Linked DNA regions of Homo sapiens: regions 2, 3 and 4 are each reported to be linked to region 1. The links are microRNA targets in miRTarBase. Many come from high-throughput screens and were not tested one by one. Region 1 holds a microRNA gene; each other region holds the end of a gene's coding sequence.
What was found. Region 1 holds the annotated microRNA hsa-miR-3691-5p (AGUGGAUGAUGGAGACUCGGUAC, at 2,104-2,126, opposite strand). A microRNA usually pairs through its seed, bases 2 to 8, with sites in the 3' UTR of a target mRNA and lowers its output. Matches are read on the target gene's strand: a 7mer-m8 pairs with bases 2 to 8, a 7mer-A1 pairs with bases 2 to 7 and ends in A, and an 8mer does both.

Region 1 (7,123 bases):
AGTTTAGTAGCATGTTTCCCGTATTCAGTCCTAGCAAATGAATTCCTGAGAACTAAATGAATCGTGCAAGGTGCTGAGGGGTCCCTTATTGATGCCCTGTCCCTAAGGAGACTAGACTTGACTCAGAGTAAAGAATGGGCCTGTGCCAGGTCTGTGCTTCCATCTTGCTCGCATGTTATCTTCTGAGGGGGTATTGTTACCTTCATTTTTTTTATTGGTGAAAAAACAGAAATGCCGAGAAGTTAGATAGTATTATACTTTTGTGCAGTCCATAGAGCTGGAAAAGGGAGAGCCAGGATTTATACCCCCAGGCAGGACCTGGAATGCTTGTGAAACGCAGGCCCCACTCAGTGGCCCACTCCACAGCTACCCTCCTTCCTTCTCAACACAGCCCCAATTTCCCCCTGAAGCGGGCCTCTTCCCAGCACAGCCCCCAGGCATCAATCTTGCTTGACGTTAGGCAGTTGTGGTGGGGCCCAGCTACCTGTCCAGTGAACAGCTTAGGAATAATTGCATACCACAACTCTGGCCAAAGTGGCTAGAGGAGGGGGTTCCTGGGCCTTCTGCAAAAGGGTTCTTTCCTCTCAAAAGAAGACAAGACTCAGGGGCTTTTCTATTTTTACTGTTGGACACTGCTAAGCTGGAGCCAGGAGGCCGGTCTGTGGGCAGACACACTGTTACATGAAATAATTCCAATACATTCTCACATCAGGGATTTAGAGGGAAAGTGAGAGACCATCAAAGATGGCCATTTTAGGTCAATTTACAGAAAAGCAGAAGAGCATGTGAGAGCTCAGCACTGAGATGGATGGAATGATTTCCCCATCATCTATCCCCCAGAGGCAGGGGCTTTTCCTAGTTGGCAGTCAAACCCCAGTGGCCTGCTGGAAGCCATTGGTACCAGGCCATTGGTATTACTTGAGTAGAACTGGGATTTATGTTTTCATGATGATCCTAATTGGGTCACAGGTAAGCTTTGCTGTGATGTTTGTGTTTGAGTCCACAAAAAAATTTTACAGTAATTTAAACCTGTATTTATGTTTGATACGAGCTCATTTTGTTACCTTAACAAAACAAGGGTGTGCTGGGATTTTGTTTTCTTTAAGCAGTTTAATGACTCCAGGAAGTAAACGTGTGTAGTTATGGTCTAGCTAAAGTCACTGATGTCATATTTTAACCTGGATTTTGGGTTAAATAATGGATAACGTACCTAATTAGGCTACCAGTAAACAATCACTGCAGGATTTCACCTAAAATGCCAGTGACCAGAAGTAGATGGTGTCCTCTTTCTCTGAAAACTGGGGATCAATGTGAGGTTACAGTTGAAACTATGGGTTATCAATGTCCACAGAATATACTGGCCCTAGGTAAGTAGAAAAAGTCCTTGAATTTGCTTAACCAAACTTTACATATGCTCATGTGACTACCTGTTTTATACATGGATTCCTTTTCATCTTTGAAGGAAGACAGGAAACAGGGATACTAAAATTCACATTCAGAAAATATTTCCATGTAGAGACGTCCATCTCCCCTCGGTTCTCTCCCTACTGCCTAAACATGCTTTGTTAGCAGGCCAAGTCAGACGTGGTCCACGGCAGGGTGAATTAGGCCCTTCTGTCTCATCGCTCCTTCCTTTTTAATATTCCCGAGGAAGTAACAGTATGGTACTTATTAAGCCAAATTTTCCTGGAAGCTCCAGGTCTCATTGATAGCCACGCTGATGAGAGATTACTGTCCGACTTTCCTTTTGTAAATTAGTGGGCAACTGGTTCTCTCCACATGGAGCGGGAAAACAATCTCTGTCTTCTTTCAGTTCCAGAACACACCAAGCTCGTTAGCACTCCCCAGGCCACCTGCCCTCCCCCACTCTCCCTTCACGTCACCTTACTCATCACCAGGTCCCAGATGAAAGAGCTCTTGCTCACAGAAGACATCCGTGACTGGTGTCCCGGCCACCCTCCCAGCCCGCCCTTTTGAACAGCACGTCTTACAGCTGGTTGTGTTTTACTCACCCGCATGCTCGTTTGTTGAACATTGGCTCCCAGACCGTTTGAGGCACTGAGGAGAGGATGACGCAGACTTGGTCCCCACCCTCAGCAGTGGGTACCGAGTCTCCATCATCCACTACCCAGTGCCTCAATATTCACTGAAACGTAAAAGCAGGAAGGAGAAGCAAAGACCTTTATGAGCCTCAAGGCTATGTGACACCCACAGATCAGCAGGGTATGCAGGACTTCCCGTGCTGTGTGGGGAGAGTTAGAATTCTGAATCGTAATCCTGAGCTGGGCTGAGGGGGCAGAGTTAGAACTCTGTATCGTAATCCTGAGCTGGGCTGGGTATACGCCTTGAACAAGTCATGGTGCCTTCTAAATAGTCTCAAGTGCAAAACATGGATGAGAAAATGAGAAAAGTTATAGAAAGTATTTTTTAATGAAAGAATTCATATTAGGTGACAGGTAATGACCTTTACACACACACACCTCTCTCTCTCTCTCTCTCTCTGCTTATAGTGACTGAGAAATCAGCTCTCCCATAACTTTACCAACAATAATTCTTGAAGATGAGAGCCTCTTGTCTGAAATCATTTTCCATTTATAGTTATATGAAAGATATAATGGAATAACTGCTAATTAAATCTATAAATATACATATAAAAATTACCTTGTCATTTGTAGCGCGCTTCCAAGTATAAAATTAAACGTGGTTCTGAATTTTTCCCCTAGAACTCTAAGTTTTCATTTCTTAATCGTCTAGAATAGCTCCTTTAATAAAATTTCATTTTTGACATGATGCTTGCTTGATATTTTAAAACTGTACTTTAAACCTGAAATTTCACATTAATTATTATATTTTTAGGATTGGAAAATGACACCATCTTTCAGATAAATGATTGGATGAGTAATATTTAGCCAATTTCGCTTTCTGTTGCAGGTACAGTTCTGAGTGTTCATTAATATTCAATGAAATTTCCATCAGTATGTATGATATTTTCAGGTTTTCAAAAATAAGTGAAATAGGCACTAATGTGGTGATAACACTAAAATGAGGGCCTGAAAGAAGCCCCGACACGTGGGAAAAGCCTGCTAACAAAGACGCACTGCAACAGAAAGACCTCACAGGAGAGGCCCTTCAACCCAGGATCGGTATTTTATGGCATCAGCTCATTAATTCCTCCAGGTCCCCAGGACACAGATATCAAGGATGGTGTCAGGCTCATTATCTCAGACACTGAAACTGAGGCTAGGGAGATTTTCAGTGGTTAACCAAGGTCAGATAGCATGTCGTAAAGCTGGGATTCAAACCTCTTTACATGTCTGCTTTCAAAGTCGTAGCTCAAACCACTGATCCTTATTGCTTCTCCAGAGAGATATTCTCCAAAATACTCTAGAATTAGGGGAAGCATTAATCTGAAAATCTTGGTATGTCTTCTGGGGGTGGGGGTGGGAAGAGGAACCCTGAAGTCCCTGACTACTGTGGAGATGAGGATATCAGAGGGCTTCTTATAAAGTTCTCATTGGAATAATAAAACTATGAGGTAATAGAAAATCTGGACCAAATTATATATACATTATTTAGATACGTAAACATCAGATACACAATTCCACTTAAAAGCATGCCTGTCCACACATGGACACACATATGCACAACAGGCAGGTGCAAGCCATTCCCAGAACATGTCGTCTTACTAGTTCATCATGGTACTACGTTTGTTACACCTCTGAATGATTTCCTACGAGCAAAACATCCATCACTTTAAAATAATGTTAAGACACTCTAGGATAAATGTAACAAAGGGCAAACGTCAAATGTTAAATCTTTATGCACAGAAGCAGATGAACACAGCAGCATGCCTCTGGCATCCCCAAGTCCTCGCTGACATTCAGACAGCCACCCTTGTTTCAGGCTACAGTAAAGCAGGGTATTAAGAGGCAGTAATGCACCGCAGCCCATCTGTCCCATAAAAGCTCAATACGTAAGCTTTGTAGAAGGCAGGTGATCAGTAACAGTGGTGAACCAGGTGTACATTATTTTAATCAACTACATTCTGGACCTTTATTCTCAAAGTTTCTAATGGCAAACGAATAAACAGAGAAACCAACCATATCTGCCCTCCTTGCAATTTTTTCTTCTTTTGGATTCTGATTTTCCCCTATTGTTGCACCTCCTTTCCTTCTCTGTTTAACCAAGGCTGGGGACCTTAGGCCATCAGACCTGGGTTCAAGTCCCAGCTTGGCCATGTATTAGTTCTGTGACCATGGATACCCTGGTTTCAGGTACTTTCTATGCAAATGGGATATAATAATGACACCTCATAGGGAGGTGAGGTCTGAGGTATGCAAAATCCTGAGCACAGTGCCTAGTACACAGTAGGCCCTCACTAATTGTTAGCTATTAACATAATTATTCTTTCTTTGTGGTCTCTCCTTTGGCCACCTTGAAAAGCATCTGAGATAGCAAATGTGCACATGTTCTGTGAGCAGCAGAGTGTCATGCATTTACTAATTCTCAATCGAGCCTCCAGCTCTCCCCTGCAAGCGTGTAACCGCTGCATGCTCAGGCTCTGACTACTATCTTGAGTTGTAGAACTACAGCTGAACCAATCTCTTGCAGCTTAGAGTCACTAAAATCAGAGTCCTCAATGTGTTTCTAAGGTTGGCTCCTGTTCCTGAGTTTGAGTTTGCTATTTCTGATGACACAGCCTTTATGAGAATGGTATAGCATTCTCTTCCATGTCTTCTTTTCTCCCTTCCTGACTTTTAATCTTCAATTCAAGCCCCTATCAGCTTATTTAATCAGTGTCTACACTAGTACTCTCATGGCATGGCTAGAAGTGACCTTTACTTATTTAACCTCTTACTCCAAATCTTCAGGGGCTCCAAAATGCCTTTTGTTTGTTTTGAATTTTTTTTTTTTTTTTTTGCAACGGAGTCTTGCTCTGTCACTAGGCTGGATTGCAGTGGCACGATCTTGGCTCACTGCAACCTCCGCCTCCTGGGTTCAAGGGATCCTCCTGCCTCAGCCTCCTGAGTAGCTGGGACTACAGATGCGTGCCACCATGCCCAGCTAATTTTTTGTATTTTTAGTAGAGACGGGTTTTCACCATGTTGGCCAGGATGGTCTCTATCTGTTGACCTCGTGATCTGCCTGCCTCAGCCTCCCACAGTGCTGGGATTACAGGCATGAGCCACCGCACCCGGCCTCCAAAATGCCTTTTAAATAATTTCTGAAGTCTCTGCCTGGCCCATCTCCCTTTCACTGGGTTTGCCCCGACTCCTTCACAGTTGTTGCCTCCAGGAAATCCTCTCCCCAGTCACACGTGCCAATTCCACCCACTTCTCGGTCCTTGAGCAAACGGCTCCTCTACCAGAAAATGCTTATCCTGCCCTCGGTGGCATATGCTATCTCCTGTATCAATTCGCCAAGCATTTTATCAGGAGGCAGCATGTTCTAATGGAGAAGGGATGGGCTTTCAAAGCAGAAAGGCTTGTTCTGAAATCCTGGCTCAATTTACTAGCTGCATGACTAGGGGCAGATTATTTATTCTCTGAATGTTTGATTCCTTATCTATAAAGTGGGATAATAAAATCCACCTCACCGGATTACTGTCATAATTAAATTAAAAGTCCATAAATTATCAAATAGAGTCTTTAGGGCACAGAGGGAGGCTTAACAAATAGAAGATAAGTTTTTCCTTGTTCTTTTCTACCAGTATTTTTCCCATTTTGCTTTCTGGGAGAATCCTGTGTGCCCCCATTTTGTCTCCCTGGCTGGATGACAGGCTCCAGGAAAGCAGGATCTTTGTGGGATTCACTGCTGCAATTGCTCACAGCATCTAGCAAGCTCCCAGACATGGGTGATTCACGCATATTTGATGAATGAATAAAAGAATGATACCATATTCTTGTCAATATGTATCACTGGAACCACTAAGTATGGGAACTGGAAAGGACCTTAGAGAAAAATCACTGACCCAACTTCATTCTATAGATGAGGAGCAACATGACGCTGAGAAGCTAAGCAGCTTGCCCATGGTTAGCACGCCAGTGAGAGCGGCAGACTCAGCTCTGTGTTTCTCCTGCCCTGCCAAGCTGCTTCCCTGATCAGCTGCAGGCAAGTATGTGATGCCAAAAGCATTTCCTAGGAAAGCGGCAACTAAGCGACAACTATGTCACTCGGGGAAACACCCACAAACAATGAATGACACACATGTACTACCTCCAGTGCCGGCATGACGTACTAGATTAAATAGGGGGCGAGAGCTGGCTTTTAATAATCTGCCATCCTTCTAATATTTTTTTAAAAACTATACCCCATCGTATCTTCTTTGGTGAAAATGTCCAGTCAGAAGGCATGGCTGGTGGAGGCAAACGGAGAAGTGAGGCAGCCCCAGCTGCGTGTCTGTCTCCGGCCTGGCTGTTCCCCTCTGTTGTACACGCTTCCTCCCTCAGCCCCATTACAAAGGTCTGCTTTACTCAGTGCCTGAGCTGATGCCTAGCTACTCTCATAATCAGCTAAGCTAATGTGCTCATGGAACTGTTTCCAGGGGATGGGACTGCGTGTTTCTGGGGAAAGCCTTCCTCTTGGGCCTCCTCTGTTGTTGGCTGGTAGGAATTCCAGGCTAGGTCACGGGGCAAATGGAAACACGCAGCAGACGGCAACTCTTTACCCACTGCCCTGTGCTGACAAACTTGCTGCCAGATGAGAAAGGCATAAGGGTGGCTTATTTAATGACAGGATTTAGAATTTTATTTATGTGACAACTAGTACTATATCCTTAGTAGCATACTTAAGGCCGCTGGGCTTGCAGGTTCCTTAAATGAAGGCAGTACGTACCTAATTCTGCCTCTGTGTCCCAGGACTGTCACAATACACTAGGCTGTTGGTTTTGTTTCTGTTGAACCATTGGTAATCTTATTATTATTTTTTTTGTGTGAGAGAGGGTCTCGTTCTGTCGTTCAGGCTGGAGTGCAGTCGTGTGATCTCAGCTCTGCCTCGCCTCCTGGGTTCCAGCAATTCTCCTGCCTCAGCCTCCTGAGTAGCTGGGATTACAGGTGTGCACCAACACGCCTGGCTAATTTTTATATTTTAGGAGAGATGGTGTTTTGCCATGGTGGCCAGGTTG
Region 2 (7,123 bases), not on the chromosome of region 1:
ATTATGTTAAAATCAGGTACTCCGATCACTCATCTAGTTTTCTGGTTCTTATGAATGTGCTTTCTTGCATGAGTAGTTGTTCAGCTCGTGTTCCTGTGGGGAGAAAATTGATGAATGTTTCTCTTTGGCCTTCTTGCTCCACTGATTTTTCTTTTTCTAGATTTTTACATAAATTGAATGATACTACATGTAATCATCTGCATCTGGCTTCTTTCACTGAGCTTAAGGCTTTTGAGATTTGTCCATATTATGTATAGGCATCCTTTTATATTGCTGGATAGTGTTCCATTTCATAGAGATGCTACAATCGATTGCTGCCATGGACATTATTGTGCATACCCAAAATTTATATGTTGAAATCCTAACCCCCTAGTACCTCAAAATGTGATGTATTTGGAGGTAGGACTTTAAAGAATTAAGTTGAAATCAGCCCATTAGGTTGGACCCTAATCTTACCAGTGTCCTTATAAGAAATTAAGACACACAGAGACACCAGGGGTACACATGCGTACAGTGATGGCCTTGTGAAGAGACAGAAAGAGGGCAGCCATGTGCAAGCCAAGGAGAGTGGCCTCAGAGAAATCCAACACTGCCAGCATCTTAATCTTGGACTTTAGAATTGTTAGAAAATTAATTTCTGTTGTTTGAGCCACCCAGTCTTTGGTATTGTGTTATGGCAGCCCTAGAAAATTAATACAATTACTCATTCACCTATGGATGGTCATTTGAGAATTTTTTTTAAGTGTTCTAGTTATTGGTTAGATGTGAAGTTTCCATACCTTCTCCCCACAAAGTCAAGGCACATCACCCTCCTGGTACATCAACATGTTCACCAACCAGGAAACTCCACCAAGCCTCTGCGTCAAGAGTTCTAAGTTGGTAGGGAGGAACGAGGAGGGGGTATCTCATTTTGTAGCTGTGATTAAATCACAACCACATGGCTGACTTCAATCTCTAGTTCCTTTCCTCTCCCCAAAGGTCAATCTGGCTCAAAGTTTCAACCCTCTTATTACATGGTTGGTCTTTCTGATGAAGAGCCCCCATTCTGAACCTTTCTAGGAGCCTATAATGAATCACTTCGTTAGTATAAAAAATACACTTCTCTCACTCAAAGAATTACAAGATTTTTGTAGTACTAAGCCTGGGACAAAGATCCAGATATATTTTTTATTACACCACAGACTGTATTTAATATAATAATTAATAGATTTTCTACTGTTAAACCAACTTTAAGATCCTAACAAATCTCAAGGCTGGGTGCGGTGGCTCACGCCTGTAATCCCAGCACTTTGGGAGGCCGAGGCAGGCAAATCATGAGGTCAAGAGATTAAGGCCATCCTGGCCAACATGATGAAACCCTGTGTCTACAAAAAATACAAAAATTAGCTGGGCATGGTGGCGTGCACCTGTAATCCCGGCTACTCAGGATGATGAGGCAGGAGAATTGCTTGAACCCAGGAGGCGGACGTTACAGTGAGCTGAGATCGCGCCACTGCACTCCAGCCTGGCAATAGAGGGAGACTCCGTCTCAAAAAAAAAAAAAATCCTAACAAATCTCACTAGAATATGACTTATTCTTTCTCTCTAAGAGATATATAGATATATGTATTAAATATCTTTAGTAGAGGATTTTTCAGATCTCGAGTGAGCCTGGTCAGTTGGTATCTTTCAATGGATTTTTGTTTTCCAAGTTTCAACTTACTGAGAAAGGGTTGTTTAAAACAATCACACATTATCCATTATATGTTTCAAAGTTATCTAGTACTATACTATGTTTCATTGCTCCTATCTGTAATATGTGATTTACGTTCTTTCTGATTAAAAAAAGGAGACACCTTGAATAAATTATTAAAATTGATAGACCTTCCACTATATCAGAAAGAAAAAACATGGGTTCATAGATTTTCTCAAAAAAGAAAAAACTAAATAAGGTTACTGTGAAAATTAATTCTGAGGCCCTAGTACAAAGATGGAGAGCTCAGAGCCCAAAAGTCATCCTGTGTTAAGGAGACATAGCTAAGAGTCTCGGTTTGCCAAGGTAGCTGGAGTCTACAGAGCAGAGTACAGGAGAGAAAAAACTTCAGAGATATAGAGGGCCATCCCCAAGTATTCAGCTGAGTATAATCTGTGTTTGCATATAGAAAAAGACCAGAGGATGGGTAAAGAACCACCTGAAAGGATTATACGGGAAGCAATTCCCAAGGCTTATACAGAAAACATGATAGTTCTCATTTCAACCAGCTTGAGTAAAAAAAACTCATAACTCATGAAGCATTAGGTAGAGAATATAGGAAGGTTGTGTCTCAGTAATGGGAGGGGAATTTGTCTTAAAATGTATGCTGCAATAATCTCATCGAGAAATGTTTAGAATCAAGACTCCCCAAAAGATCATATTGTTTCCAAGTAACTTAACCATGTAACAGAAAAAAGAAATCAAGAATATCTATAGAAAATTAAAAAAAAATCAGTACCTAAAATTCAGTGTCCATTCAAAATTAAACCATGTTAACAGTATCAGACAAGGGAGATTTTAGAGAAAGAATATTACCAGAGATTAACAGGATCATAATGATAAAGTGGTCAACACATCAAGTGGACATAAAATAGGAAATATTTATTATTCACCTAATAAAAACATACTAAAATATGTGAAGCAAAATCTGACAGAACTGCAGAGAAGTAAATCCAATTTAATATTCAGAGATGTCAACAATCCTCTTAAAATAATTGCTGGAACCAAAACCACAGAATGTCAATAAAGATAGAAAAAACTTAAATAACATCAACCATTTTTACCTAATCAACACTTGTAGAACCCCTTCATCAAACGAGAGTACAGTATACATTTCAAGTGAACATGTAACTCATACCAAGATAGCCCATATTCTGGGCCACAAAGCAAATCTCAATAAATGTAAATAATTCAAGTCTTAATGTACTCTGACCACAATGGAATTATTGCAGAAACTACCAGAAAGATAAGCAAAATCCCCAAATATTTAGGAATTAAATAACATACATTTAAAAAGAGCCATGTGTCAAGAAGAATTTTTTTAACTGGAAAACATCCTAAACTCAACTAAAATGAAACCACATCGGCTGGGCTCACGCCTGTAATCCCAGCACTTTGGGAGGCTGAGGCAGGCGGATCACAAGATCAGGAGATCGAGACCATCCTGGCTAACACGGTGAAACCTCGTCTCTACTAAAAATACAAAAAATTAGCCAGGCATGGTGGCAGGCGCCTGTAGTCCAAGCTACTCGGGAGGCTGAGGCAGGAGAATGGTGTGAACCCAGGAGGCAGAGCTTGCAGTGAGCCGAGATCGCGCCACTGCACTCCAACCTGGATGACAGAGCAAGACACTGTCTCAAAAAAAAAAATGAAACCACATCAAGCTTGATGGGAGGTAATTAAAGCAGTTCTCAGATAGATTTTTAACATTAACATCTCTTCCCCATATTAGGGGAAAAAAACCCAAAGGTTTGAAATGAAGGACCTCAGCTTCCATGTTAAAAAGTAGCAAAAGAAATGAAATCCAATAAAAGCGGAAGGCATTAGTAAAACTCAAAATGGAAAAGAAAAATCCCAAAATATCAGAAAACAGAAAATTCAATAATACCAAGTACTTTAAGATCAATAAAATTGTAAAATTGATAAATCTCTACCCAAACCAATCAAGGTTAAAAGAAAAATATAGACATTACCAGTATCAGGAATAGAAGAGGTTGCACCACTACAAATTCTACAAGTATGAAAATAATATTTTGAAAAATTTGAGTACTTAAATAAAACAGAAAAACTCCTTGAAAGACACAAACCATCAAAGCTCACTCTAGAGATAGATGGATGGATGGAGTGACAAACAGATGGACGGACAGACAGATGTATATATAACTAGTATAGCCCTCCATCTACCATGGAAATCAAACTTGTAGTTAGATGCTGTCCTACAAAACACACTTCAGGGCCAGAGTGACAGACAGACAACACACACACAGACAGATGTACATATAACTTGTACAGCCCTCTATCTACCACAGAAATCAAACTTATAGTTAGAAACTTTCCTACAAAACAAACTCCAGGCCCAGACAGCTTCCTTGGTGAATTCTACCAAACATTTAAGGAAGAAATAATACCAATTATTCACAAACTCTTCCAGAGAGCTGAAGAGCAGGAATACTTCCCAACTTACTCTATAAAGCTGGCATTATGCTGATACCAAAGCCAAACCTGGGCAAGATATAAAATTACAAAGAAAAAAAAGCAAGCAAGCAAGAAAGAAAGTTAGGGACAAATATCACTCGTGAACATTGGTGCAAAACTTGTTACAAAAAAACAAAACAAAACAAAACAAAATAGCAAATCAAATTCAACAATATACTAAATGACTAATACATCATGACCAAATGGGAATTATTACAGAAATGCAAGGTTGGCTTAACATTTAAAAAAATCAGTCAATGTAATTCATATTAAACAACTAAAACAGAAAAAGAAAAAAACCATATAGGATTATGGTCACCAGAGTCCAAGAAAACGCCCCACAAATCCCTATTTTCACCTTTGTGTAGTTCTCTTCCACTTTTAACCAGGATTAGCTAGGGTTACTTATGAAATATAGCAGAAATGACGGCTCATCACTTTCAGTTTAAGGTAATGACAGATACTGTGGCTTTGTTCTTGTGTGAGTTCTCTCCTGGATCACTTGCTTTGAAACTATTTCTCTACAATGGAACACTCTTAGCAAAGTACAAATGAAAAGAAATGAACTATGAAACACAGAACACCACCATGAGCCTTAATTTCAGAGTTTAAGAAGCCAAAAACATTAGAATACATATTAAATTACTCTATCTCTGTAGAATTCTAGGAAATACAAACAAATCTACAGTGACAACGGATCAATAGTTGCCTGGGGATGGGTGAAGGAAAGGGAGAAAATATAAAAGGAATCAGGAAACTTTTGGTTTGAGAAGTGCCAACATGTATCAAAACTTATCAAATGGTACACTATAAATATGTGCAGTTTATTGCAAAAATGTTTAGACTGACTTCTGGACAGTAACCTTAGCCATAAGAGACACAGGTATGGAAATATTTCTGTAAACCCTCATAATGGAGCCAGAGTAATGGAAACACATGTGGATGTACCTTTAGAAGGGTCATATTCCCTATAGTTTGCTGCAGTTTTCTCATTCCTTTATTAATCTGGGTTTCTGCACCAACTATGATTCCTACCTGGGCCTTCTGGAGGACAGCCAATATCAACTGCCTACTGAAAAATAGACTTCAGAGATCTTGACATGTCCACTGAGTTCAAATTCTCCTCAAGAAGCCTTGGGAATATGAAGTATCTTCTGGGAACAAGGGACGTAATTCATGTTGCTCCCAGACACATTAGAGATTATCACAACAAATGCCCACTGCTTAGGGTGACCTCAATTACACAAAAAATCTTAACATATAGACCAAAAGATTAGGCCTACAAAGACTGGCATTCTTTCCTAGGAGAGCTGAAGCAGTCAAGTAAGTTAGCTTGACACTAGCATAAGAGCTAGTCTTTGCCATCCTACTATCACTTCAGAGATACAGATAGTTGGAGCTCTCACAAAAGCTGTTCTTCCCTTCATACTGGCTTAGCTCAATTCTGTTCTCAACCCAACCCACAAAGCGAACAGAATCCTCAAGATTTCAGATAGTCTAAAAATTAAGGCATTTGTTGCAAAACCAGAATATGAGGCAGCCAATTTCAGGTCAGGTGTCTTGAAGGCTAGAAAAATTCGTCCCAAGTGCCATGTGAGATCAACTATATCCATGAAGGGAAACCTCTGCCAGTGGTCAGCAGAACAAAGCTCCCATTTTTCTGGCTAAAACTGGGTCATGCTCATGCTTAAACCAGTAGTGGGGCAGAAAAAAAGTGAGAATCCTTGATGGCCTCAGGCTACTGATGATTCCCTCCAGGGAAGGGAATAGTACAGAGGTCTGTCTTTTGAAACACATTGGGGTTACTTTGGCACAAGGCAGGACTCTTCCAGCACAAAGACAGATGGCTTCTAACAGGCACTGCCTTGACGAAATTCCAGCAAGAGTCTAGAAAATTCAGCATAGCTCCAGAAGGCTTCCCATATAGCTGGCACTCGGAAGAACCTCCCCAGGGTGAGTGTTTGAGTGTATAAAGTTCTACTTCTGGCTGTCGGCTACACATAAAGGCTATGCTTGGAGCTTCTCTCTGATGTCAGTTATTATGTTGAACAAGGAAACGGAATTATCTCCCATCCTAAGGCCTTTCTCCAGTGTGAATTTTCCAGTGGCGGATGAGGGAAGCCCTCTGCCTGAAGGCCTTCCCACATTCACTGCACTTATATGGCCTTTCTCCAGTGTGAATTCTATGATGCTGAACAAGTACATGTTTGTGGCTAAAGGCTTTTCCACATTCACTGCACACATAAGGCTTTTCACCATTATGAACTCTTTGATGTGCAATAAGGTCAGAGCTTTGGCTAAAGAACTTCCCACATGCGATGCACTCATAAGGCCTTGCTCCAGTATGAACACTCCAATGTTTAATGAGTCTGTATTTGTGACCAAAGTATTTTCCACATTCGCTGCACTCATATGGCCTTTCTCCAGTATGGATACTCTCATGCTGAACAAGTGTAGATTTGTGACTATAGGCTTTCCCACATTCACTGCACTTGTAAGGCCTTGCTCCAGTGTGTACTCTTTGATGTACAATAAGGTTAGAGCTATGATTAAAAACTTTCCCACATATGCCACACTCATAAGGCATTTCTCCAGTGTGGATTCTCTGGTGCTGAGCAAGTATGGGTTTGCGGCTAAAGGTTTTCCCACATTCACCGCACTCATAAGGCCTTTCTCCAGTGTGGACTCTCTGGTGTTGAACAAGTGAGTCTTTGCGGCTGAAGGTTTTCCCACATTCACTGCATTTGTAATGCCTTTTTCCACAGTGAGAGGCCTCCTCACACTTGGTGTTGCTGTGTGGCTTCCACTCATTGTGAGGGGCATGGTGCTCGAAAATGCTTGAGCTGGCTAGGAAGTCCTTACAAGCCTCCCCTGTCACAAAAGACATCTCCATTGATTGCACAGCACAGTTGTTCA
Region 3 (7,123 bases), not on the chromosome of region 1:
GGAAGGCACAGCCCTATGGAGCTGGATGCCGCAGTCTCAGTGGGAGCCACTGTGGCAGCTGAGAGCAGCTTGTTCCAAATTACTGTGTGAGACTGTCATCTCTAGGTCTGTCAGAGGCCCATGACCAAAGAGGCAACTTAAAATGCATGCATTTAGTAGAGAAATGACCAGGCCCTCGGCCTGCCCGCCACAGAATGCCTGGCCCTCCACCCTCTGTGGGCTCAAAGCTCGTGAATGCGGCTCTGTAGCCCACCGTCGGTGTCATACCTCTCATGGAGACGGCTCCCTCTTTGTCTTGCAGGGGATGAGCTGACCAAGATGGAGGACGAGGATGAGCAGGGCTGGTGCAAGGGACGCTTGGACAACGGGCAAGTTGGCCTATACCCGGCAAATTATGTGGAGGCGATCCAGTGATGAGTCGGGGACAGGCCAGCGGGGGGACGGAGGCGGCGGGCCCAGGAGCCTCAGCCAGCCACGTGGGCATCCACTCCTTTTCCTGCAAGAGATGATGGTTCCATTGCTCTTGGCTTCATGGTGTTCCTGGAAGGCAGATGAGCTGGTCATTTCGCCTGGGACTCGGCACCTTTCCGAGTGCAGCTGGAGGGATCTGAGCGCAGGAAGACGCAGAACAACAGAAATAGCCGCCCCTCCCCGCCCACTGTGCCTGTTGGCCTATCATAGATCTCTATGTTCTTGACTTTGTCTCTCCTTTCCGAGTCAATGGTGGGTTACACTGATCTTGTTCCACTGATTACTCTCTCTGACGAGTCCATCACCTGCAACTTAAATGAACAAGCTTACATCCCATTTTGAGTGAAGATTTTGAGGTTTTTAATTTAAAGGCTGTGTACAGTTATACTTTTTTATACACCTGTTCATTTCTACTTAAATTATGGCACAGATTGATGCGCACCAGTCTTGAGGAAACGATCTCCCTATTCCCTTACCCTGTTACTCAGCCACGCCGTGTGTAGGCTTAGCCTCAGGTGGCAGATGTTTGAGGAAAGGAATTATGCCAGGAAGGTGGGACCGGGTTATGGTCGGGTTTCTATTGGGAATGCTCTTTGTGCTTTTGGGCATCTGAATGGAAGCTTTACATAGAACCTTAGGTAGAACTCCCCCAAATCGCCATATTTAAAAATTATTTTCACTCTATTCTTGCTTAAAACTGTACTCTTTTGCAAATTAACAATTTTATCACTGATTCAGAGTTAAAAAGAAGACTAACTTTTCAAGCAAATGCATCTGTAAAGATGCTTTAGATTAGACTGTCATGTCTCAGTGTCTATCTGTATATATTATTTGATATTCAGAGAATCTAAAGCACTCGTCTACTGTTTTAATGAGATTTAACAGCTTTTAACAGTGAGTTTCGTTTGTAAACTGCTTGAAGTCTGTGGCATTCAGGCACACGTCTGGCTGGCCGGCTGGGTCTCCTCCCGGGCTCAGTGGGCCTGGGGCCTCTCTGACGTGGTGCCTGCTGGAGGGAGGCTCGTCGTCACCAGCTGACTGCTGGTCCGGCTTCTGACCGGCCTTTGTCCTGGCTCCGTAGCAGAACACTGTAAAAGTGCCCGCGTCTTTGCAGTAGTTGCAGATTTCAGTCGTCGTGTTACTTGTGCACAAACAGAAGCTGGGTCTTACCCGCAGCACGAGTGTCTCGGGCTGCCCGGAGTCGCCCGGGAGCAGGTGCTGCAGCCAGAGTTACGCGGGGGCCACGCGGGCCGGCGGGGGTGGGGGGAACGTGGGGGAACCTGTGTTTCACGTGACTCAGCAGTGCCCGCCGCCGTCACCAGCTATGCATTCACTCCGTTTCCAGTGAGCAGATGTCTTGCTTGGAAAGTGGACCTGTGTCTGTGTCTGTCCTGAGAACTTACCAGCAGAAATCCTCATTTCTGTGCTACGGATTTACCAAAAATTGTCAAGTCTTTTTCAGTTTAACAGTTCCTTTACATGTGTAGTATTTGAGGAAAAAAATCAATAAACAGTTGATCTCGTGCATATGGAAGTCCCTTCGCCATCATCTGTCTTCATGCCCACTTCACTTGGCGGGGGTGGCCTCCCTGGGGCTTACTAGCTTTGGAGCTGGGCAAGATCCAGGGCACAGGACCCCTGCCCAAAAGGCCACGGCCCACTGCCCCTGCCAAACTGGAGGTTGGGGATTTGAGGCACCTGAGCCCCTTGGGGTTCCCTTCTCCCCGAGACCTGCTGCTGTTTGACCTGGGCTTCCACATGGTGCGGGCATCGGCTGGCGCCTCTCTATTGCCCCAGCCCAAACAGCAGGACAAGACTGACATCACCCATAACTCTCCTATGAGCACATTTTCCTGAGCACCTACTGTGTGCTCTCCACTTTTTACTTACATTATCTGCGTCTCCAAACATCTCCACAGGGTATGGGCAAGTCTCCCCATTTCCATTCTACCGAGGAGGAAACAGAGGCTCCAAGAGCCAGCCAGGGTTTCTTGAGGAGTCTCAGCCAGCCCAAAGCACTGAGCGAAATCCCTGAGGAACCACCCCCTCCCTCGCTGGAGAAACTGAGGAGGGAGGAGGCTTGGACTGGCTTGAAGACAGGAGAGAAGCAAGACGTGAGGGCGGCTGTGGCCACGCTCACCGAGCCCTGGGAAGGCTGCCCAGAAAAGCACGCCAGCTGGGCATGGGGCCTCACAGAGCACCTGGGAGGAGCAAGGCAGGCAGCTGCCCCTGCAGTGTGGCTTTGTCCCAGCTCAGCAAGGGTATGGGACAGATCCTTGTCACGCAGCCTCCTTGTCTGAGGGGTGGCGGGTCCCCTGCTCCCAGCTTCTGAGGAGTTGGAGCCCTACAGCGCAGGGCGGACACCCGGCTCGGCCCACAGCCCCAGGCTGCAGAGAAACAGGCAGAACGGGGTTGGGAGGGAAGGTGGGGGGTCAGAAGCAGGCTCCTGGTGCCAGTGGCCTCAGTCACTGCCCAAACACCATGGCAAGACCACGGTCCCCGCTGAGCTGGATGAAGCAACCTCCACTCTGAGGCTGGATCACACGGCCCCCCCCGTGAGAGATCTGGCAGGGCCTCTAACTGCCCATCTTCCCTCTCCTGCCCTGCCCTCAGGGGCCAGCTTGGAAACTTCAGCTTGTCTCTAGGCCTCAGTTTCCCCAAGTAGAAGTGATACTTTTCCAGTTGGAGAGTTAGAGCAAGAAGAAAAGGTGGCCTGGGCAACATAGTGAGACCTTGTCTCTACAAAAAGTTTAAAAATTGGTCGAGTGTGGTGGTGCATGCATCTAGTCCCAACTACTTGGGAGACTGAGGCAGGAGGATTGCTTGAGCCCAGGAATTTGAGGCTGCAGTGAGCCATGATTGCACCACTGCACTCCAGCCTGGACGACAGAGCTCTCGAGACAGTCTCAAAAAAAGAAAAAGGCCGGGCACGGTCGCTCACACCTGTAATCCCAGCACTTTGGGAGGCCGAGGCGGGTGGATCACGAGGTCAGGAGATCGAGACAATCCTGGCTAACACGATGAAACCCCGTCTCTACTAAAAATACAAAAAATTAGCTGGGCGTGGTGCCTGGCACCTGTAGTCCCAGCTACTCAGGAGGCTGAGGCAGGAGAATGGCATGAACCCGGGAGGTGGAGCTTGCAGTGAGCCGAGATCGCGCCACTGCACTCCAGCCTGGGTGACAGAGCAAGACTCCATCTCAAAAAAAAAAAAAAAAAGAAAAACGCCACAGGCACTCAGGAGCTGGTCATTGTCACGATTATGAGTGACACCATAGGCAGGGGCCCAGGGTTCTCTGCTGTCCATGGCTGCCCTTCGCTCCTCCCACAGCCACCACCCTGGATCAGTGCTGCCACCAACTGTCCACACCTCTTCGGGTCCCCAAGGCCCCTGAGTTGACACTAGGGGGAGTGTTAGCCCCAGAGCCCTCTCCTGGGCCAAAGCTACCTGGAGCTCAGGACAGGGGTATTTCATCATCTCTCTCCATCCTTCCCACAACCCAGAAATGTCGGGAGGGTGAGCAAGTGCTGCCAAGTGACCGGAGTAGGGATCTGGCTTTGCTGCAGCCTGAGCTAAAACTGGGCCTTCGGAGGTCCCTGCAGATGGAGAACAGGGCTGACCTCTGCTCTGGGCTCTGATGCCAGATCCTGGTCCACTCAGAAGCATGTAGTGAAGGCCCGACTGGGCAGCCTGGGCTGTGTCAAGGCCTCAGGCACTGGATAGGCCTGGAGGGAACCCGCTCACAAGCCATCGGGATAGGGATGGGGGAGGTTGGGAAGGACTTGTGTGGACCACCTGACCAACCCCCTCATAGTTCATGGGGAAACAGGACAAGTGAGAGGAAGCAGTGACTTCGCCGTGGGCACAGACCATGTGGTTTGGGAAGCTGAGCAAGGCCTGACCCCTGAGTGGCCCAACCTGGTGAGGGATCAGCTGGCTCTCCTTATGTATCCATTGTGCAGTCATTCATTCACCATGCATCTATTGAGCACATACTGTGTGTGAGACTCAGCGGTGCCAGGACAAACATGAAGAGAAGCCAATCTTGCCCTTGGGAAACTCTGGTAGGCTCAGAGAAGGACCTGTGTTATTCTGACACCATGATGGGACAGCCAGAGACAAAGGGCCAGAGTTGTCTTCTGAGAATGTGTGTGCTGGGTTTCAGAAGTCTCAGGCCTCCCAACCCAGGCTCCAAGGCCTCAGAGATCAGAGCACTGCTCAGTCCTTGAGCCGTTCCCCAACTTCCTGTAGGAAGTGTCCCTGAGTCCCCACCTGGGCAGGAGGCTGGACCACAGACAAACGGAAAATGCCTGAGCTTCATTTGCTGAAAAGTAGGGATGACTGGCGGGCACAGTGGCTCATGCCTGTAATCCCAGCAGTTTGGGAGGCTGAGGCGGGTGGATCACCTGAGATCAGGAGTTCGAGACCAGCCTGGCCAACATGGTAAAACCCTGTTTCTACTAAAAATACAAAAAATTAGCCGGGCATGGTGGTGGGCACCTGTAATCACAGCTACTTGGGAGGCTGAGGCAGGAGAATCGTGTGAACCCGGGAGGCGGGGGTTACAGTAAGTCAAGATTGCACCACTGCACTCCAGTCTGGGAAATAAGAGCAAAACTCTGTCTCAAAACAATGACAACAAAAAAACAGGGGTGATGAAGTGAGGATAACTTAAGGGGTGCTCAGAAGCCAAAGACCCTGCCAGGTGGGCACCCCAGCCTGTGGGTGCCCTGTAAGCTTTCCTTCCCCCACCCCTTTTCACAGTCCAAGGTCTCCCCAGAGTGGTGGCTGTCCGCTCTGCTCCCCTCCCTTGTCCACCCTTCCTGAAGCCTCCTCTGAGGCAGGGAAGGTCTGCGCCCCTCCCCAGCCCTTCCACAGACACCTGTGGAAGACAAAGGCCACTCTCTGGGCCTCGGTTTTCCGAATAAATGGGCTGCATCTCTGTGGCCCCTGTGGTGGCAGCAAGCAGAGGGGCCCTCAGGCCAGGACGGAGTCAGCTCCAGGTGCCAGCCAGTGAAAAGAACCAGGGTCAGGATGGAGGTGGCTCCACCACACCTGGGAGGATGTGCCCAAACTGAGCTAAATCTGGCCTCGCCTGCAGTTGAGGTACGAGGCTCATTTCTGGCCAGGCATGACCACCACCAGGCACAGGGTCGGAGGAACCACAGTGCTCATCCTCCCTCTAGCCTGGGTATGTGGCACTAAACCAAAAAGAAAAAAGAAAACGCAACAAATCTGGGACTATCCTATGAAACCCAGATTATATTGTTCTAGGCATCTACAAATCCTTTGTGGAAAGGGCTAGGAAAGGAAGGAAGGAAGAAAGAAATGAACTAAATAAGTGATGTCACTCTTAGGGGAAAGGATACCAGCACCAACGGCCAGTGGACCAAAACTCAGACGCCAGAGGAATACTAGGTGCTAGACCTCCCGAAGGTTGCAGAAACCCAGAGCGCCTTAGGGTTAGGGTTAGGGTTAGGGTTAGGGTACGAGGACCTAAAAGACCCTGAGCTCAACAGCATTCGGATCACCAAGGCAGCCGCCTCAGGGCATGTGAACTACATACAGTCACTGGCCGCTTCTGGGCAAAGACAGCCAGGTGGCCCTGCCACTTTATGGTATTTTCCAATAGGAATCTTAATTATTTTTTCCTGATTGTAAAAGGAACAAAGGCTCAGATGAAAATTTGGAAATTTAGTAAAGGTATTCAGAAAAACATTAGTTATCTGTGATCCTGACTTCCAGAGGTTACATTGCTAACATTGGGGTGTATTTTTTTCTGGTATTTTTCCTAACATATATGCACATGTGCCATTTTCTTTTTTTCTTTTCTTTTCTTGAGGTGGAATTTCACTCTCGTTGCCCAAGGCTGGAGTGCAATGGCACAATCTCGGCTCCCTGTGCCCCCCACCTCTCAGGTTCAACAATTCTCCTGCCTCAGCCTCCCGAGTAGCTGGGATTACAGGTGTGAGCCACCACGCCCAGCCACATGTGCTGTTTTCTTGTCGTCATCATCATCATCAATGTGTGTATGTGTCTTACAAAATTGGGATCGTACTGTAAATATAGTTTCGTTCTCCTGCCATTTGATCATGAGCATTTTCTCATGTCCCTAAATATACTTCAATTAAAAATAAACACCAGACATAGTGGCTCATACGTGTAATGCCAGCACTTTGGGAGGCCGAGGTGGGAGGATCACTTGAGCCCAGGAGTTCTAATCCAGCTTGGGTAACACAGGGACACCCTGTCTCTACCAAAAATAAAAAAAAAATTAGCCAGGCATGGTAGCACACACCTGTAGTTCCAGCTACTCAGGAGGCTGAGGTGGGAGGATCACTATAGCCTGAGAGGTCAAGGCTGCCGTGAGCCATGATTGCACCACTGCACTCCCGCCTGGGAAACAGAGCAAGACCCTGTCTCAAAAAAAGAAGTGAAAGAAGTAGAGGAGGTGGAAGGAGCAACAGGAAAGGCTGGCACACTCAAGTGTAACTTTTATTGAAAAAAATCTGGCTGGGCATGGTGGGTCATACCTGTAATCCCAGCACTTTGGGAGGCCGAGGTGGGAGGATGAGGTCAGGAGTTGGAGACCAGCCTAGCCAACATGGTGAAACCCCGTCTCTACTAAAAATACAAAAATTAGCCAGGCAT
Region 4 (7,123 bases), not on the chromosome of region 1:
TATGGGCTCTGGCCCCCACCTGTAGACTCTACCATACTCCCTATTTTAGGTCCTCCAAGATCACAACGAATGCTTTGGATCATTCCAAAGCACTTACCAAAACATATTCTGCAATCTCGTATTATTAGCTGGTTAAATAAATTTGTGAAATGCTGTATACTATACCATACCCTCTTGGAGTTCACATAGGTCCCTGGCATAGTAAAGATTCTCAGAAGTCTTGCATGAAGAAAACCTGCTTAATGAAGTATGTTACAAACTTGTTTGACTCTACTACGTAGACATTTATAGTCTCGTGGAGTAAGTAAAACTAAAACTGCTAAGTGCAGTAGAAAACAAAAAAAAATAATAATTTAAAACTAAACTAACATGGTACTAAACTCAGAAAGCAAAGAAGGATTAGTAAGGTCAGTTTACTTGGGAAAAAGACTTCATGGAGGTAAAACCTGGTCCTTCAAATATCAACAGCATTTAAACAGAAAACAGAGAGGAGAACATTCTAGACTTTAGGTTGGCAGATTTCTAGGAGTGACCCAAAAAAGGCAGACAGCTAAAACAAATTGTCAAGGTGCTAAGATTGGAGATAAAAAAAAGAAAAATGAGATGCTTACAAATAGAAAACTGAAGGTCAGGTAAAATTTTATTGAAAGAAAAAGGATAACTTCCCTGATTGTCACTACTCTTACACGGTCTAATATGAACTCTTGGTATCTGCCTAGTAACAATCCAGTTTTTAATAAAGTTTCAATTCCTTAACCCCTTATTTTAATCTGAATGAGGTAGACTTTTAGGCAAGTCTCTCAGTTTTTCCAATTGAAAAAATAGTAATCTCAGTATAAATCCTATTTTGATTCTATTTTCCCTCTATTTTTAAGATTTTTAATCATAATGAAATGCTGACATAAAAGCTTTATTTGATACTACTGCTTCTATAATACCCTCTTTTAAGAGGTACAGAAAATATTAAAACAAATTTATTCAATGCTTTTTTAAAAAAGTATCTCCTTATACTCCTGATTAAAGTATAGGTGATTTCCAATGATTTCTGCACTTGTTTTTTTAGCATTTTTAGTAATTTCCTTAGATGAATTTTTAAGCTTTATGTTTTCAGTTGGAGACTTACTAACAAAACCTAATTCATAAAAAAAATTCACTTCATTTTCCTCCTCATTTACCTGCTTCCTGTTCTCTCTGGTTTCTCTTTTCCATGATAAATTTAATAGAGACACAGGAAAGCATATTCATCATAAACCAGGGAACTATAATATCCAGTGCTCGAAGGGCCTTTGTGAGGTCTGTTGGAACATTTCCCCAATCCCTGTCCAGGCAGGTTCCCACCTAAACCACCTAGGAACCTCAAGTATTTAATGCCTTAGTCTTCCTCAAAAACCCACTCAAGATTTAAACCACCTACTTACAGGAAAGGTCTTTCTTGGAGCCTCTAGAAATAAATTCTTTCCTTAGCTAATTCAAAGCCTTTTGCTGATACTTGAAAGCCATTTTTTAATGTCCACTTTTGAGTATACATGAGGTAAAAGGCATGAAAGAACATGTTTAAATGACAAACTGGTCACAGTGATTTCCTTATGGAAAAATATATTCTTTAGGTTTAAAATCATGAAATCTACTGTATCTAGGGTATCAGAACATATTAACATTCGACATACAAGTTGGCCCATGACTGCAAAACATTCTTCCTCCCAAACACAATTTTGTTTTAATTCATAGTGGGAGGAAAAAATCATTCTGAAATTTTTATCCATGATAAATTATTAACATTTCTAAAACATAAAAAGGAAGAGATATATTTTAAAGCACGAATTATTTTCTTTGTTTAGTAATCTTGAAGAGAGCTCATACAGCTCTTGTATTTTTCATTGGTGGGTTAATAATTTTTATATCACATAATCAAAACATAATAGGTATTCTGAGCATCCTTGGTGTTTTGGCATTTTACTGAAATCATTTTGAGATCTGGTAGGAAATCCATTCCAGTTGGAGGAAATTCTATGAGATATAATAAATAGAAAACAGCTACATCTGTAGAGCCTTCAGTTCTAACCCTAATGCTGTGCACCATGTTAAATTATCAGAGGAGAGTCCAAGTTCTACTGACTGAAAATATGGCTTTGAGCTTTCCATTTAATCTGGAAGGATAATAGCTTTCACCTACTTGGTCATTCAGAGTGAACATTCTCACTTTCCTTTCCTCACACAGGCACCCCCTTCTCTATAATGCCTTACCCTCTTCTAACCTGTAACTCTTTTAGGTTATCAAAGAAGACTGATATGAAATTGATACTTGTTATAGCTTTATTAAAGCTAAGAAGACAATATTATTAACCGCAAAAGTACAAGTAGGGAAGAGTTCAACAGTCAAGGATAACTTCAAAGATCCCAAAAGAAAAATAAGGGCAAGTTTGACAATGGGACTATTTGGAGATGCTTGCTGAATAACCCCATTTTTCTGGCTTTGTTTCTTTTTTAACGTATTTAGGGCATTCTTATTTTTCCACATTTAAGGCAGAAAAAAAGAGAAACTAAAGAGCCGTGTGACATTGCTTTTTACAGAAAATAATTATAATTCATTATAGTTACTGTAAACATGTATACAGCTTAACAATATTTAGGTCACAAGCGAGACAGTCTTTGAGCGTCAGAACAGCCTTTTAAAAATGGGCTAACACTTTATGAAGTAAAAAGGCAAATAATCAAATAATCATTTTGCTGGAAGATGAGTACCAATGTCATGATACCAAAAGTAACAAGTAAACTGGACCTTAAACTTGTTATATCATTTGTTCATTGTTATTAAAATACATTTAGTTCTCCTGCATCATATAGAAAATTCAATGGGTAAAGGATCATTTAATATCAATAGGCACCCATAAATCTGAATTAGCACCGCTGAACCAAAGAATTTCCAGCACCTGGATGACTTACATACTAATTCTTTAAACAAGTATAATACAAAATCATAGTTCATACTTCTTAAATGGTAATATAAAAAGTCACAGATTACTCATGGGAATAATAAAGCTTGGTTATCAAAGTCTTCCAGGTGCCCAGACATGTCATTTTTTTAAAAATCTGTCATTTTAAGTCTAAAACTAAAGTTATTTCAGTAAAACATAGCTAAAATATATCTGAATTATTTTAAACATTTTTTAGAGAACAACTACCAGAGAAATGTCTTTTCCTTTTTAGTTCCAAGAGCTTAAATGAAACATTCATGCATTAAATTCAAAGTCTGACTGTCAAATCATTTCACTTTAATAAAAATTTGAATTACCTGCCTTAGGGCATTATTAAATATCAAATAAAAAGTACACACACATAAGTCTGATTCCCAATATAATTTTTATATAGAACTCTGACCAGATTTGTATTACACATTTCAAGATAAAAGTATTCATAAAAAAATGAAATAAGAATTAGTCACCTTAGAATTCCTGTACCATTCTTAGGAATTTGGGAGCAAATTATCCCCTTTAAGTAATCTCAGCCACCAAAGTAAGAACACAAATATATCTTCCTTTTAGAAATAGTACCTAAATTGTAATTAACTCAAAACTTTGAAAAACTACACATTATTCATCTATCATATAAAGAATATGAAGTATGTGAAATATACAAAATCTCATAAACAACATTTCTCTGTGTGTGTGTGTGCGCGTGTGTGTGTAAAAGAGAGAGAGAAAATAATAATAGTCATTTAGATATTTAGAGAATGGCAACTCTGGTCTAGGACAAGATACAAACCAAACATTCAAGGGAATAATCTCCCTTCATTAAAAGTATCATTTACAGGTATTGACATTCACAGGGAGTATACTAACTAAACCTAGACTGGAGAAATGCATAAATTCACGCTTTGCAACCCTCATCCCACCCCCGCTGCCTCTTGGCCTCTCCTGTGAACACATCCTTCCCTCTTCCTCTGCTCCTATCCATCTTCACTGCTGCTCTCCCACTCCTAGCTCCTGCCCCTTCATCATTAAATGGTAAGAGCAAGTCATGGGTACACAGCAGCTCTAAACCACCACCTCCTTCTTTCTTCCTTCCCATTGCAGCACAGAGAGTGCCCATCCTCTCAGCAAAAGCCAGTCTCCCTGTGTGCTTAGGATTTCATCCCTTTCAACTTTTCAGACTTCACTGCTCCAGCTCCTCCCAGAAGCAGTATCTTCAGCCTCTCTCCATCTACTTGCTCCTTTCCCACACCCCAGCATATAGACAAGTTCTATTTCTTTTGTTTAAAAAAGAAAAAAAAAAAGACTTCTTCAATCCCACCCCGTCTCTGTTGCTGCGGCCTCCTGCCCCACCCCAGCCCACCAAGGTGGCTGCGACCTGGAGTCTCCAGCTCCTCCCTTCCTATGGCCTTTAGCCTGCTGCAACCACATCCCTCCTTGATGTGTCACTCGACCGCCAGTGTGGCAAAACTCTCTAACCTCTGCCCATGTCGTGGTGAAGAAAAAGGGCTCTGCCAGTCAAGCTGCCTGGATCTCCTTCAGCTCCACTGCTCAATCACTGTATTACTTTGGCCCGTAACCTAACTTATCTGTGTCTTGGCTAACTTGTCTGTAAAGCCTCCCACAAGATTTTATGCACACTTAATTAAGTAACCCCATTAGATCCATCAGAACATTATATGAACATATACAATGTCTACACCCAATACGTCCCTATTTCAACCCAGACTTGTTTTCTGTTCTCTACTCTTGAAATGCTAATGACCTTCATGACCAGAGTCCGCTATTGCAGTTTGTGGTTGACAGGCATCTCTCACTCACTGTGCTGCAACTCAACTCTTTATCTTCAACCAAACAGGGCCTCCCCGCAGCTTTCCCACTGCCACTCAGTGGCACTCCATCCAGGGTTTCCAAAGTGTAAGACCCCGGAATTTATCTTTGACACTTCCATCTCCCTCCACCCCTCATCCAATTCATCACTAGCTATAACCTGCGATTTCTATTTCATATACATCAACTTCTCTCCACCTCCACTGTTCCTATTCTAGTGTCCAAGCCTCCGCATCTATCACCCTGGCTACCTGGCAGACTTCTTCGTTTTTTTGTTTTGTTTCATTTTGTTTGAGACACGATCTCAATCTGTCACCCAGGCTGGAGAACAGTGGTGTGATCTCAGCTGACTGCGGCCTCCACCTCCCAGGCTCAAGTGATCCTCCCACCTCAGCCTCCTGAATAGTTGGGACTACAAGCGTATGCCACCACACCCAGCTAATTTTTAAATTGTTTATAGAGATGAGATTTCGCTGCTTCCCTAGGTTCTATTCCAACAGATGCCTTCCCCTTGGGAAGCTGTGGTTTGCCAGTGATGTACAATGACCTATGCACTTAGGAAATTTACAAGGTAAATAAATAATCCAATATATAGTTTGTTTTATATTTTATCTCTTCCGTGTTTGTGATATTTTATTTTGTTAGTTCCTTAAGAGTAAGGAATACATACATTGAATTCTATATATTAAAATACATAGATTATGTTTCAATCAATAGTGTATCATATTCAGATAATTAATAAGTGCTTCTCAATTTATCATATAAAAGGCACTTCCATAGAAGAAGTATTTCAATGCATGCCAGATATGCTCCCTCCCCTGAGAAACAAGAGGATCAATTCTGCAGGAGACGAGAAGGGTCCACACTGAGGCTCACACGCTCCCCAAGTCCCCTCCTATGTGCTCCTTGGTCACTGGGACATGACTGGTGCTGCTTCACGGGGACAACATGGTAAGTTACTAAAGAGGTATGCATGCATGTCACTTTTTCTGGGCCTGAGGGTGTCTGTTCTTATGAAAGCCACCAAAACTTGGAATTAAAGGCTACTCTGATAGGAAAATATAATCATAGTTTTTCTTCAATACTGCATAAAATTAAAATACCTACTTGACCTGTAATTAACAGAGCTCAAGAATGTGTCATAAATTTTATCAAGATGAAGTACATACGCTTTTATTACTAAATTACCAGGATCACAATAAGTGTACCTTTGGTACGCTAGGTTTAAGTAGCTGTGCACCTCATTTTCCTTACTTAATCTGGACATACCCTCATGAAGACAGACTTGTTCCTGTCCTCTTTGGCTACTGAAATGCAGCTCTAATGACTCTGTCACTAAGAGGCTGAGTGGGCCGAAAGTTGTCTCCCAAAATCCCATCACAGCCTTCCACAAGTTCTGCCCCCTTAACATGTGTCCTCAGCCTTCGAAATTCTTCTATCTGAAAATAAAAGCAGAAGAAAATAGATTAATCAATTATCGGACATTAACAAGATTGGAGTTTCATAAATGACATGCATAAAATATGTATAAATTACAAGAATTATTGAAGAGAAAATTAAAATTAAGCTTCAAAAAGAAAAAAAACAGACTTAATTCTTCCAGACCTAAGACGTTAGAGAGGACCCTTTCAAGAAATGACAACAGAAGTAGACATATCAAGATCTCTGAACAACTCAAATAGATAAAGAAATCTGCTCCATTTGTTAATGTAAAAATGATACAGGCCGGGCACAGTGGCTCACGCCTGTAATCCCATCACTTTGGGTGGCCAAGGTGGGCAGGTCACAAGGTCAAGAGTTCAACAGCAGCCTGATCAACACGGTGAAACCCTGTCTCTACTAAAAATACAAAAATCAGCCAGGCTTGGTGGTGCACACCTGTAATCCCAGCTACTCAGGAGGCTGAGGCAGGAGAAATCACTTGAACCCATGAGGCGGAGGTTGCAGTGAGCCGAGATCACACCGTTGCACTCCAGCCTGAGTGACAGAGCCAGACTCCATCTCCAAAAAACAATGATACAAACCTCTCCCAAAAAGGTTTTATGCCTATCTATAGCATAATAAGAAAAAGTGAACAAATGAATGTGCTCTTAAATGCTTTCCAAGTACATTTTAATTAATGGATTCTTATGTTACTGTATGTAAACACTGATTAGATCTTAGATTTATCAGATAGATTCAAGGTTTCCTTTCATCAAAAGACTTTTGCCACTTTTCTAGCCCTCTGGAGAGCACAGGTCCAAAAAAATGATTTTTCAAAAGTCTGAGCCCAAATTCCTGTCTTTACAATATTGATTTTCAAGTTCATTTCCCTTTATTAGGTG

Region 2: miRTarBase lists ZNF772 as a target of hsa-miR-3691-5p. Seed matches in the 3' UTR shown: 8mer at 5,145-5,152.
Region 3: the mRNA of PACSIN2 is a reported target of hsa-miR-3691-5p. Seed matches in the 3' UTR shown: 7mer-m8 at 482-488.
Region 4: the mRNA of CA8 is a reported target of hsa-miR-3691-5p. The part of its 3' UTR that is shown has no 7-base or 8-base seed match.

Annotation. Positions count from the first base shown.
Region 1 is chr6:5,146,183-5,153,305 of GRCh38, forward strand. MIR3691 (microRNA 3691) reads right to left here and starts at 2,140; the gene lies at 2,051-2,140. The region is part of intron 2 of LYRM4 (LYR motif containing 4); the gene reads right to left. The region is part of intron 3 of LYRM4-AS1 (LYRM4 antisense RNA 1); the gene reads left to right.
Region 2 is chr19:57,466,993-57,474,115 of GRCh38, forward strand. It overlaps ZNF772 (zinc finger protein 772), which reads right to left. Exons shown (of 4, transcript NM_001144068.2): 4 at 2,594-7,123. The coding sequence ends at 6,282. Among named protein-coding and RNA genes, the nearest start is that of ZNF772, 7.0 kb to the right of the region's middle.
Region 3 is chr22:42,864,648-42,871,770 of GRCh38, reverse strand. PACSIN2 (protein kinase C and casein kinase substrate in neurons 2) reads left to right here. Exons shown (of 11, transcript NM_001184970.3): 11 at 302-1,998. The coding sequence ends at 414. LOC101927393 (a long non-coding RNA gene) reads right to left here and starts at 357. Exons shown (of 3, transcript XR_001755575.2): 1 at 268-357.
Region 4 is chr8:60,202,682-60,209,804 of GRCh38, forward strand. CA8 (carbonic anhydrase 8) reads right to left here. Exons shown (of 9, transcript NM_004056.6): 8 at 6,069-6,238. The coding sequence ends at 6,104. Among named protein-coding and RNA genes, the nearest start is that of CA8, 75 kb to the right of the region's middle.